Linked DNA regions of Homo sapiens. The protein of the gene in region 1 purifies or fractionates together with the protein of each later gene. This does not show direct contact. Each region holds a gene or a part of one and is shown on either strand. Other genes may lie near its edges.

The links.
Region 2: the proteins of PHOSPHO2 (region 1) and SIGLEC5 purify together in Homo sapiens (affinity purification with mass spectrometry; 2 studies listed by BioGRID and IntAct, with this or other methods). This does not show direct contact.
Region 3: the proteins of PHOSPHO2 (region 1) and CPNE4 purify together in Homo sapiens (affinity purification with mass spectrometry; one large-scale study listed by BioGRID and IntAct). This does not show direct contact.

What each region holds. Positions count from the first base shown.
Region 1 is NC_000002.12:169,699,761-169,702,288, forward strand, and holds the end of PHOSPHO2 (pyridoxal phosphate phosphatase PHOSPHO2), read left to right. Parts: intron 1-1,185; 5' UTR 1,186-1,211; coding exon 1,212-1,937; 3' UTR 1,938-1,948; downstream 1,949-2,528. UniProt on the Homo sapiens protein: Phosphatase that has high activity toward pyridoxal 5'-phosphate (PLP).
Region 2 is NC_000019.10:51,623,796-51,627,453, forward strand, and holds part of SIGLEC5 (sialic acid-binding Ig-like lectin 5 isoform 1 precursor), read right to left. Parts: intron 3,454-3,658; coding exon 3,354-3,453; intron 2,319-3,353; coding exon 2,237-2,318; intron 1-2,236. UniProt on the Homo sapiens protein: Putative adhesion molecule that mediates sialic-acid dependent binding to cells. Binds equally to alpha-2,3-linked and alpha-2,6-linked sialic acid. The sialic acid recognition site may be masked by cis interactions with sialic acids on the same cell surface.
Region 3 is NC_000003.12:131,552,418-131,556,075, reverse strand, and holds part of CPNE4 (copine-4), read left to right. Parts: intron 1-524; coding exon 525-579; intron 580-3,584; coding exon 3,585-3,636; intron 3,637-3,658.

The DNA.
Region 1 (2,528 bases):
GCATTTCTCTAATGATCAGTGATGTTGAGCTTTTTTTTCATATATTTCTTGGGCACATGTATTGTCTTCTTTCCAGAATTGTCTGTTTGTGTCTTTGCCCACTTCTTAATGGGGCTGTTTGTTTTTTCTTGTAAATTTGTTTAAGTTCCTTATCAAGGAACTACATGATTCTTATCAAAAAGGATTTTGGACAGATTTTATGGGCAGAGTCTTTAACTATTTGGGAGCTAAAGGTGTAAGAGAAGATAAAATGAAAAGAGCAGTGACATCGATGCCTTTCACTTCAGGGATGGTGGAACTTTTCAACTTTATAATAGTTGCTGGATATTAGACCTTTGTCAGATGGATAAATTGCAAAAATTTTCTCCCATTCTCTAAGTTGTCTGTTTACTCTGTTGATAGTTTCTTTTGCTGTGCAGAAGCTCTTTAGTTTAATTAGATACCATTTGTCAATTTTTGCTGTTGTTGCATTTGCTTTTGGCATCTTTGTCATGAAACCTTTGCCTTTGCTGTGTCCTGAATTGTATTGCCTAGATTTTCTTCTAGGTTTTTTATAGTGTTGGGTTTTACACTTAAGTCTTTAATCCACCTTGAGTTGATTTTTGTATATGGTGTTAAGGAAGGGGTCCAGTTTGTTTTCTGCATATGGCTAGCCAGTTATCCCAGCACCATTTATTAAATAGGGAATCCTTTCCCCATTGCTTGTTTTTGTTACTAAATACCTTTTCTTAAAAAGTTATTTTACATCTTCCAAGATTTCATGTTATGTTAAATTTGTTCAGAATTTTGGTTAGTACACAGAGAGTCCTTTATACATGATCTGTTATTTAATATGAGGATTGTAAATATTTTAATCTAATAAAATAAGTGTGGTTTGATTGATAATTTAATGATAGTAAGAAATGCTTTTTTTTCTTTCTTATAAATTCTATAAGAAACACACCTCCAGGAACACAATAATACTATGAATGTCCTTTTTATATATTTTGTTTTCCACTTAAAATACTCAAATACGAACTTTGCTTCTTAGAGAAAAGTGGTTAGGTAGTGGTCTTGAAGTGCTTAATTACTTTGTTTATATTCCTCCCTTTAGCAGATTAACATTTAGTTATGTTTATTAAATAAGTATTTTAGCTAGATATGTAAACAGAGTTTGTTTAGGGAATAATATTTCTTCTTTTTCAGGGTAATCCAAATCTATTTCTGGAACCATGAAAATTTTGCTAGTTTTTGACTTTGACAATACAATCATAGATGACAATAGTGACACTTGGATTGTACAATGTGCTCCCAACAAAAAGCTTCCTATTGAACTACGTGATTCTTATCGAAAAGGATTTTGGACAGAATTTATGGGCAGAGTCTTTAAGTATTTGGGAGATAAGGGTGTAAGAGAACATGAAATGAAAAGAGCAGTGACATCATTGCCTTTCACTCCAGGGATGGTGGAACTCTTCAACTTTATAAGAAAGAATAAGGATAAATTTGACTGCATTATTATTTCAGATTCAAATTCGGTCTTCATAGATTGGGTTTTAGAAGCTGCCAGTTTTCATGACATATTTGATAAAGTGTTTACAAATCCAGCAGCTTTTAATAGCAATGGTCATCTCACTGTTGAAAATTATCATACTCATTCTTGCAATAGATGCCCAAAGAATCTTTGCAAAAAGGTAGTTTTGATAGAATTTGTAGATAAACAGTTACAACAGGGAGTGAATTATACACAAATTGTTTATATTGGTGATGGTGGAAATGATGTCTGTCCAGTCACCTTTTTAAAGAATGATGATGTTGCCATGCCACGGAAAGGATATACCTTACAGAAAACTCTTTCCAGAATGTCTCAAAATCTTGAGCCTATGGAATATTCTGTTGTAGTTTGGTCCTCAGGTGTTGATATAATTTCTCATTTACAATTTCTAATAAAGGATTAATATGTCAGCAATTGAAAAGTGTATCACTTAAGATTAGGTTCAGCAGCATAAAACTAAAACCCCAAATACCAGAGGCTTAAAAAAAAAAAAGAGAGAGAATTTTTTTTTCCTCTCACATGAAAGAATTCCAGAGGTAAGTATTTCAGGGTTGCTGTGTTAGTCTACCAACCTCAGCACTTGGCATTCAACCCATGATCCAAGGTTGCTGGTGAAGCTCTAGCCCTCACAGCAGCACTCTGGCCAGCAAGAAAGAGGGCAGTGAGAAAGTTACATCCCCTGTCTAAAGAAATTTCCCAGAAGTTGTACCCAACACTTCTATTTAAATGTCACTGGCCAAACTTAGTCATAATGCCTTACTTGTAAATAGCAAGGAAGGATGGAAAATATAGCTTTCATTCCAGGTAGTCATGTGCCCAGGAAAAGTTGGGGAAAAAAGTACAGAATTGAGTTAGGTACAGCTAGTGGTCTCCACTAAAGGTGGTTGATAGTTTATATTTTTTAATTTATTCCTGGAGCAAGTAAGCATATTTTATTCTCTTAGATATTCCTCCTTTTTTGAGACAAGGTCTCTGTCACCCAGCCTGGATTGCA
Region 2 (3,658 bases), on another chromosome or scaffold:
GTACGGTGAGACAAGGATAAGAATGTTCAGAACGGCTCAAATGGAAACAACTCAAGTGTGCATCAATATGAGCTTAGGTGATAGACACAATCATAAAATATAATATTATAAGCCGTCACACCTATAATCCCAGCACTTTGGGAGGTCAAGGTGGGTGGATCAAGACCAGACTGGCCAACATGGTGAAACCCCATCGCTACTAAAAATGCAAAAATGAGCCTTGCGTGGTGGTACATGCCTGTAATCCCAGCTACTCAGGAAGCTGAGGCAGGAGAGTTGCTTGAACCCGGGAGGTGGAGGTTGCAATGAGCCGAGATCGCACCACTGCACTCCAACCTGGGCAATGGAGTCAGACCCTGTCTCAAAAAATATATATATTATAAGCAGGAAAAATGAATACAACTGCAACTTTATACAACATGAATGAATCATAATACAATGTTGAGTCTACAAAGCAAGTCCAAGAAGTGTGCGTGGAACATGATACCCTCTGTAGATTCATAAACAATTAAAACTAAATAGTGGCATAAGCCTACATATATGTGACAACACTAGGAAGACAAGATTCACAACAGTGGTTACTGGGAATGGATCAGGGAGCAACACAGGTGGATACAAGTTATCACCAATGTGTTAGGTCTTAGGTTGGATGGTGGGTTTGCAGTTATTTATCATATTATGAACCAAAGTGAAAAAGTAAAAGTAAATGATGCTTGTTCCAGTCATGACAGCTTGGTCATGAACTAAGCATTTTGGACAATTCGTTCGGGGCAACACTAGATCAATTTTATAAAAGAGGAGAGGAGACACGCTGGACAGAAACAGCAGGAGAGAAAACTGCAGGGGCTAAAGAAGCCCCAGCCCCTGTCCTTCAAGAATTCCACAGATATTGGCCGCACGCGGTGGCTCACACCTGTAATCCCAGCACTTTGGGAGGCTGAGGCAGGCAGATCACCTGAGGTCAGGAGTTCGAGACCACCCTGGCCAACATGGTGAAACCCCGTCTCTACTAAAAATACAAAAATTAGCCAGGTGGTGCATGCCTGTAATCCCAGCTACTTGGGAGGCTGAGGCAGGAGAATTGCTTGAGCCTGGGAGGCAGAGGTTGCAGTGAGCCGAGGTTGCGCCAGTGCACTCCAGCCTGGGTGACAGAGCAGGACTCCGTCTCCAAAAAAATAAAAATAAAAAAGAATTCTACAGATATGATGAGTGGGTGGAGACAGGTAAAGGCAGTGGTGATGTGTGATGGGGACGGGGATGCATGTAGGGCTGTAAACACAGAAGAGAAGGGGCAGATATCAACAGGAGGGGAAATGACTAGAGTAGCAGATACTGAGATTAGAGCTGGAAGGATTAGATGAGGTAGTCTGGTGGAAACAGGGAAGGAAAGGTGGAAGAAACTATACTTGCAAGGGCTCAAAGTTGTAGGACAGCAGGTCCGTATGGAGACAGAAGGCCAGCGTGGCCAGGCCACGGGGCAGGATCAGAGGACAGAAACAGGCTGAAGTGGCCACCTGGTGTGGGGCAAGGAACATGGGCCTGATTCTCTAAGCAACAGGAACAAACAACAACAACATTGAAACTCCAGGCTGCCTGGGAAGTAATAGTTTTGGGGCGATGATTCTGGCAGCCTGAAGTTTGGAATGAGAGATGGAGGCAGGGAGGAAGTGAGGCAGGCTCTGTGGTCAGTAGAGGTGGGGAGGGAAGATGAGCAAAGGACAAGTTAGTTTTACTTTTAGAAAGAAGGTTGGTGGCCGGGCGCGGTGGCTTACGCCTGTAATCCCAGCACTTTGGGAGGCCGAGGCGGGCGGATCACCTGAGGTCAGGAGTTCAAGAACTGCCTGCCTAACATGGCAAAATCCCGTCTCTACTAAAAATACAAAAATTAGCCGGGCATGGTGGTGTGCGCCTGTAATCCCAGCTACTTGGGAGGCTGAGGCAGGAGAATCGCTTGAACCTGGGAGGTGGAGTTTGCAGTGAGCCAAGATCGCACCATTGCACTCCAGCCTGGGTAACAAGAGTGAAACTCCATCTCAAAAACAAACAAACAAACAAACAAAACAAAGAAGGTTGAATGGGACATAATGATTTCCTGGCTCTGGGATATGAAGGGGGAGAACAGGAGAGAAGAGAACTCCCAGGTGATGAGGGAGGAGTGGGTTTGGTGGAATGCTGAAGAGCTCAGCCTGGACTTTCCGAGTGGACATGCACATGAGAAGATCCCCAAACCACTCACCGAGGTGATGGTACCCATAATGGGGTCTTCATCATCCATTTTCTCTGGTCTCCCAGCTGCTTGCTTCCTGCGGGCTTTCACTCTAAGGAAAGAAACCAGCACAGTGCAGCTGGGACCACCCAGGCACGGGTTAGCGGGTTGTCCCATCCCATGCTAAGATGGTGAAAATGACAATGAAGCCATCCAGGCCCCGGAACTAAACTCGGAGACCTTCCTGACTTCGGAGTGAGGGCTCCATCCTCCTGGATAACCAGGGATTTGGTCAGGGTGGCCATGGACTGAATTTCCATCATATAGACCCCCTCTTACACACAAAACCATGGCAGGAATGGTCATAGCAGTGTTATGCATCATAGCCAAGAAGCAGAGGCAACCCAAGTACCCGTCAACAGCTGAACCCACAAATCAAATGCGTTCCATTTATATAATGGAATATTATTTGAAAACAAAAAGGAATGAAGTATCGATGCATGCTACAACATAGATGAATCTTGAAAACATTAGGCCGAGTGAAAGAAGCCAGCCACAAAGGACCACATATCGCGTGATTCCATTCACACAAAGTACAACTGCAACTTCAGGACAGACAAATCCACAGAGACATGGAATAGGTTAGGGCTGGGGGAAAGAAGCAGGAGTGATAGCTAAGGGGTGCAAGGTTTCTTTATGTCTTCGTTTTTCACTTTAGGCTGATGAAAATGTTCTAAAATTGATTTTGGTGACAGATGCATAACTCTGTCAATATACTTAAAGCCATTGACTCGTACACTTTCAGTGGATGAATTGTACAAAACATGTATCTCAATAAAGCTATTAGAAAAGAAAAAAAGAAAGAAGACCTCTCTGGATCTACTCAGTTCTGCTTTTTGTTTTGTTTTGTTTTTCTTTTAAGACAGGGTCTCTCACTCTGAGGCCCAGGATGGAGTGCATTGGCACAATCCTGGCTCACTGCAGCCTCAACCTCCATGATCAAGTGATCCTCCTGCCTCAGACTCCTGAGCATCTGGAACCACAAGCACACATCACCACCTCTGGCCTTAGCTCTGTGTTTCTGAGATTCAGTCTCTCCTACTCCCTACAAACACCACCCTGTACCTTCCCTGGGACCAAGACTTACATTAAAAAGAAGATGAGGCACAGACAGATACAGAGCAGGGCCATGACACCAGCACCACCAAGGGCTGCAGGAACCACTCCTGTCCCGAGGTTCGATCTCCCTGCAGAAAAGAGGGGCGTGCAATAACTCACTCCCAGGACTCAGACTCTTGTCCTCCCACCTGCTGGGCAACTTGCTCCAGGGCCCTGCTCAGACAGGAGATGAAGAACCCTGTCTCCCCACCACCAGTCCAGCCTCTCTCTCCCACCATCCATCACTCTGGGATCCATGCCCCTCCCCTCAGGCCCCTGCCCTCTGCAATACGC
Region 3 (3,658 bases), on another chromosome or scaffold:
TCCATTTCGATTCAGTCTTATCTGTATTTGAACTCTAGCTCTAATTAGTGGCATGATCTTGGGCAAGTCACTTTACCTCTCAAGGCATTTCCCCACCTGCAGAAGGGGAATAACTATCTCTCCTTGTATTTTAAAAGATGATACATACAAAAGGTTCTAACACAGTCAACCATTACAGTTACCTAGTTCATGGTCACTTTTCAAAGGAAACAAAGTTGAAAGTTGAAGTGGAGGCCATTGATGAAAGGGTAGGGCCATTTTATTTCTTAGTATAGAATCTAGCAAAAAAATTAAGGGAGGAAGTTGTAGACTAATGACTGTAATGAACTTAAGGGGCTGTTTCTTGATTTTAATTATCCATGCTATTGCTACCCCCATCACCACAGACAATCAAGAAGCATGAGTCAGCACTGGCATAGCAACATGGCCTAGCAACCTAGTAATGTAGGTTAATGTTTTTCTTTCTCATTAAATGAATAAATGAAGCAACTTCTTGTTTTTTCTTTTCTTCATTTTGGTTTCAGTGACAAAATGTTCCCTGCCTTTGGGTTTGGCGCCAGGATACCTCCAGAGTACACGGTGAGTGAGTGGAGATGTGATCTTCTTCCACTTCACTGTGGTCAAAGGATAACTTGGCTCTTCTTTGCAGCAGTCTCACACTCCTGACTCTGACCTAACTGTGTCAGTAGGGCCTACAGAGTCAGAAATTGTCTTCAGAATCAGTGAGATTAACTCGCCAGGGCCCGTCTCTTGATGAAACCCTATCTCCTGGTATTTTGGATGGGTCTTCTCAGAGGTCCAGATGAAGAGTTTCATTGTTTAGTTTCTTATAAATGTGGTCAGAGTCTGAGAAAACACTCAAGAAGTTGATCTCCAGGGGCTCAGAACCTATTCACTCGTATATCCCCTAGGAAATAGAATTCTATTGGCAATGCCAACTGGGAAAGTCCGTGACAATGGAGTCTACAGACTTTCTTATCCCAAGTCTCCGAGTCCAAGTCTTGTATGGGAGACACAGAGAAGTTTTGAAGAAAGAACTATTATGACTTAGAGAATTGGGAAGCTGAAATGTTCTTCTGAAGACGTTGGAATCCTATTTGGTTTTGATAATGATTTCTCATGACAGAAAAAAGGCAAAGATTGTGTGTAGATAAATTTGCACTGTAATGAGGCTGAGACACTACTGTGATATTCTAGATGCTCCTGTAGAACATTCTCCACAGAGAACTCGTGCCCACTAGGTGGACAGGGCCTTGGAGAGACAGCAGGGTACCTCTCCCAGCCTCCACCTTACCAGTGCCTCTGAGGTCTGAGCTAAGTACAAACAACACTGCCCAATCCTCAATTTCTCTTTTACTGGCTGTGTCTGAGCCACAGGTGAGGAGGTAGATGCTGACATTTGCTCCCTCACTAGAGCCATCATATAAAGGGCTTTCCCCTTAGGTATCCTTTTTGAAAGAGGAAATCAATATCCCTGTTGCTCCTAGAGTGAATAGTGGATGGAATCGCTTGTCTCCCTGACCTGTTCTCCTTCTTTCTTGCCTTGTATTCCACACTGGCCTTTCTGCTGGGCATAGCTACATAATTCTAGAAGCATTTATTAGAAATACAGCTTGTGGAGAGAAAGAATATAGAACAAGAGTTATCAACTGGTGGCCTATAGACATTATTCAGGCCACAAATATGTTATATTTGACACACTTTTAAAAAACGAATTCAGCAATTGCATATATAAAATGTCAGATTTCTGGTTTCTCTTGAAAACCTGAAAGGCCTGGCAACACTAAGATTAAAAGATGACCGATACAAGAATAAGCTGGAGCTGAGGAGATATAGGCCCCTTCAAATCGGGAATGTAAACAGGTGAATGCCCACTTTCTTCATAGAGCTGCTGAATAGCTCAATAGCCATCAGCCCAACTACCCAGGGATTCTTGAGTTTTCACCACATCCCCACCAGGTGGTCTTCCAGCCTCAGGTTGGCCCAACAGGGCTGAGGACAGAGCTATGCACCATACCTTTTTCTCACTAATGACATCTTTTTGGTTCCCTTCCTGGAGTAACTAATCTTTCTTGCTGTTTTCTGAAGTCCTCTTGTTCACTTGATCCCCTAACTCCATCCTTCCTGTCAGCAAAATCCCCTGGTTATTCTTGTTTCAATAGGCATCTCTCACATTTCCCCATTTCGGGTCCCCTAATTTCTCCCATTCCTCAGACAAGCACTGATGATTTGAGCAGCTCAGGTGCCCCCAGGAGAGTTTACAAGGTTGCCACAATTTACTTCTTAGGACAAAATCTGAAAGTATGCATTGAAACTGAAACACAAGCACCTCTCTTTCTTAGTTAGCACTTTCTCAGAAACAGATCTTGAGACAAGGGTTTGGATGCAAATAGTTTATTTAAAAGGTGAGGGAAACCACAATAGAGGTTGGGAAGTGGAAGTCAGCACAGAGTATATTATCAAGTCAGTTACCGCTGTTGGCAACTGGTGCTTAACTCTGCTGAAGAACCCTAGGAGACAATATACAGCACACATGGACCCCAAGGGATAAGGGAGCTGGGATATGTATACATCACCTCCTGTTAATTACTGATTACTCCCAAGGGTCACTTTTAGCCTGTCACTTGGGCAAGCAAGGCAGGCCCTGGAGGCCAAGAAAAAACTTAAGGTAAACAAAGCAAATAAGATGACTGAAGTCAGCTGGCTTACCTGGAAGTGCTAAGAGCAAGGGACTAGGATAAGCACTGAGAGCATCACCGATCACCTCCCACTAAGAAAACAGGTGTCTTTTAACACAGTGACCTAATTTATGGATACCCAAAAGAGTCAGAGCTTGGAAATATCCTTTGAAATGAAATTCTCCATAAAATACCAAATGATTCAATAAAAATGTCCAGATGCCAGAACATCTATCTTGTTTTATCAGGTTTTCGGAAAGAAAAAAGTAAACAATATGTTATTTGACCTTGTGCATAGGTTCTGCCAGGTAGAGGAATTTGTGTTGAAATATTACAAAGTATATTACTTTACTATGTTTCCAAAAGTAGAGTGCAGTCTGTTTTACCTGTAGGTATGTGAAAATCCTCCTGCCCTGTAGTTCTGCATATCATGTTAATGATTCTTAAGTGTCAACTGCTTAGCTGAAGCTTTTATAACCATCGCTATCTTCAGCAGACAGCTTGGGTTATTGAGTTTTTTTGTTTTTATTTTTGTTTTAATCACTGGGTCCAAATAGAGCTCAGCCAAATCTAAGCCTCCAGTCTGTGGCCAGTTCTAACTAGCAGCTATTCAAAGTTATCTTTCTGAAATCTTTTCTTGGATTTTTTTATAAGCCTTATTCTCCCCTCCTGACAGCATTTATCTGATTCTAGAAAATATTCCTGTCACCTCAACTCCACAGGGAGCTTAGAATTCACCCTCCATCTCATATTGATTGTGTAAAGGCTTGAAATGGTTCCTGCTGCTTAACACATAATGAATATAATGGGCATTTGTTTGCAAACTCTAAACCCCAGTGCCTTCTTACTGGATTAAAGTTGTAATTCTTCTTTCTTCCTGTTTTTTAAATTTTAATCGGTGTCTAGGTCTCTCATGACTTTGCAATCAACTTTAATGAAGACAACCCAGAATGTGCAGGTAAAGCACAACGTGAAAGAAA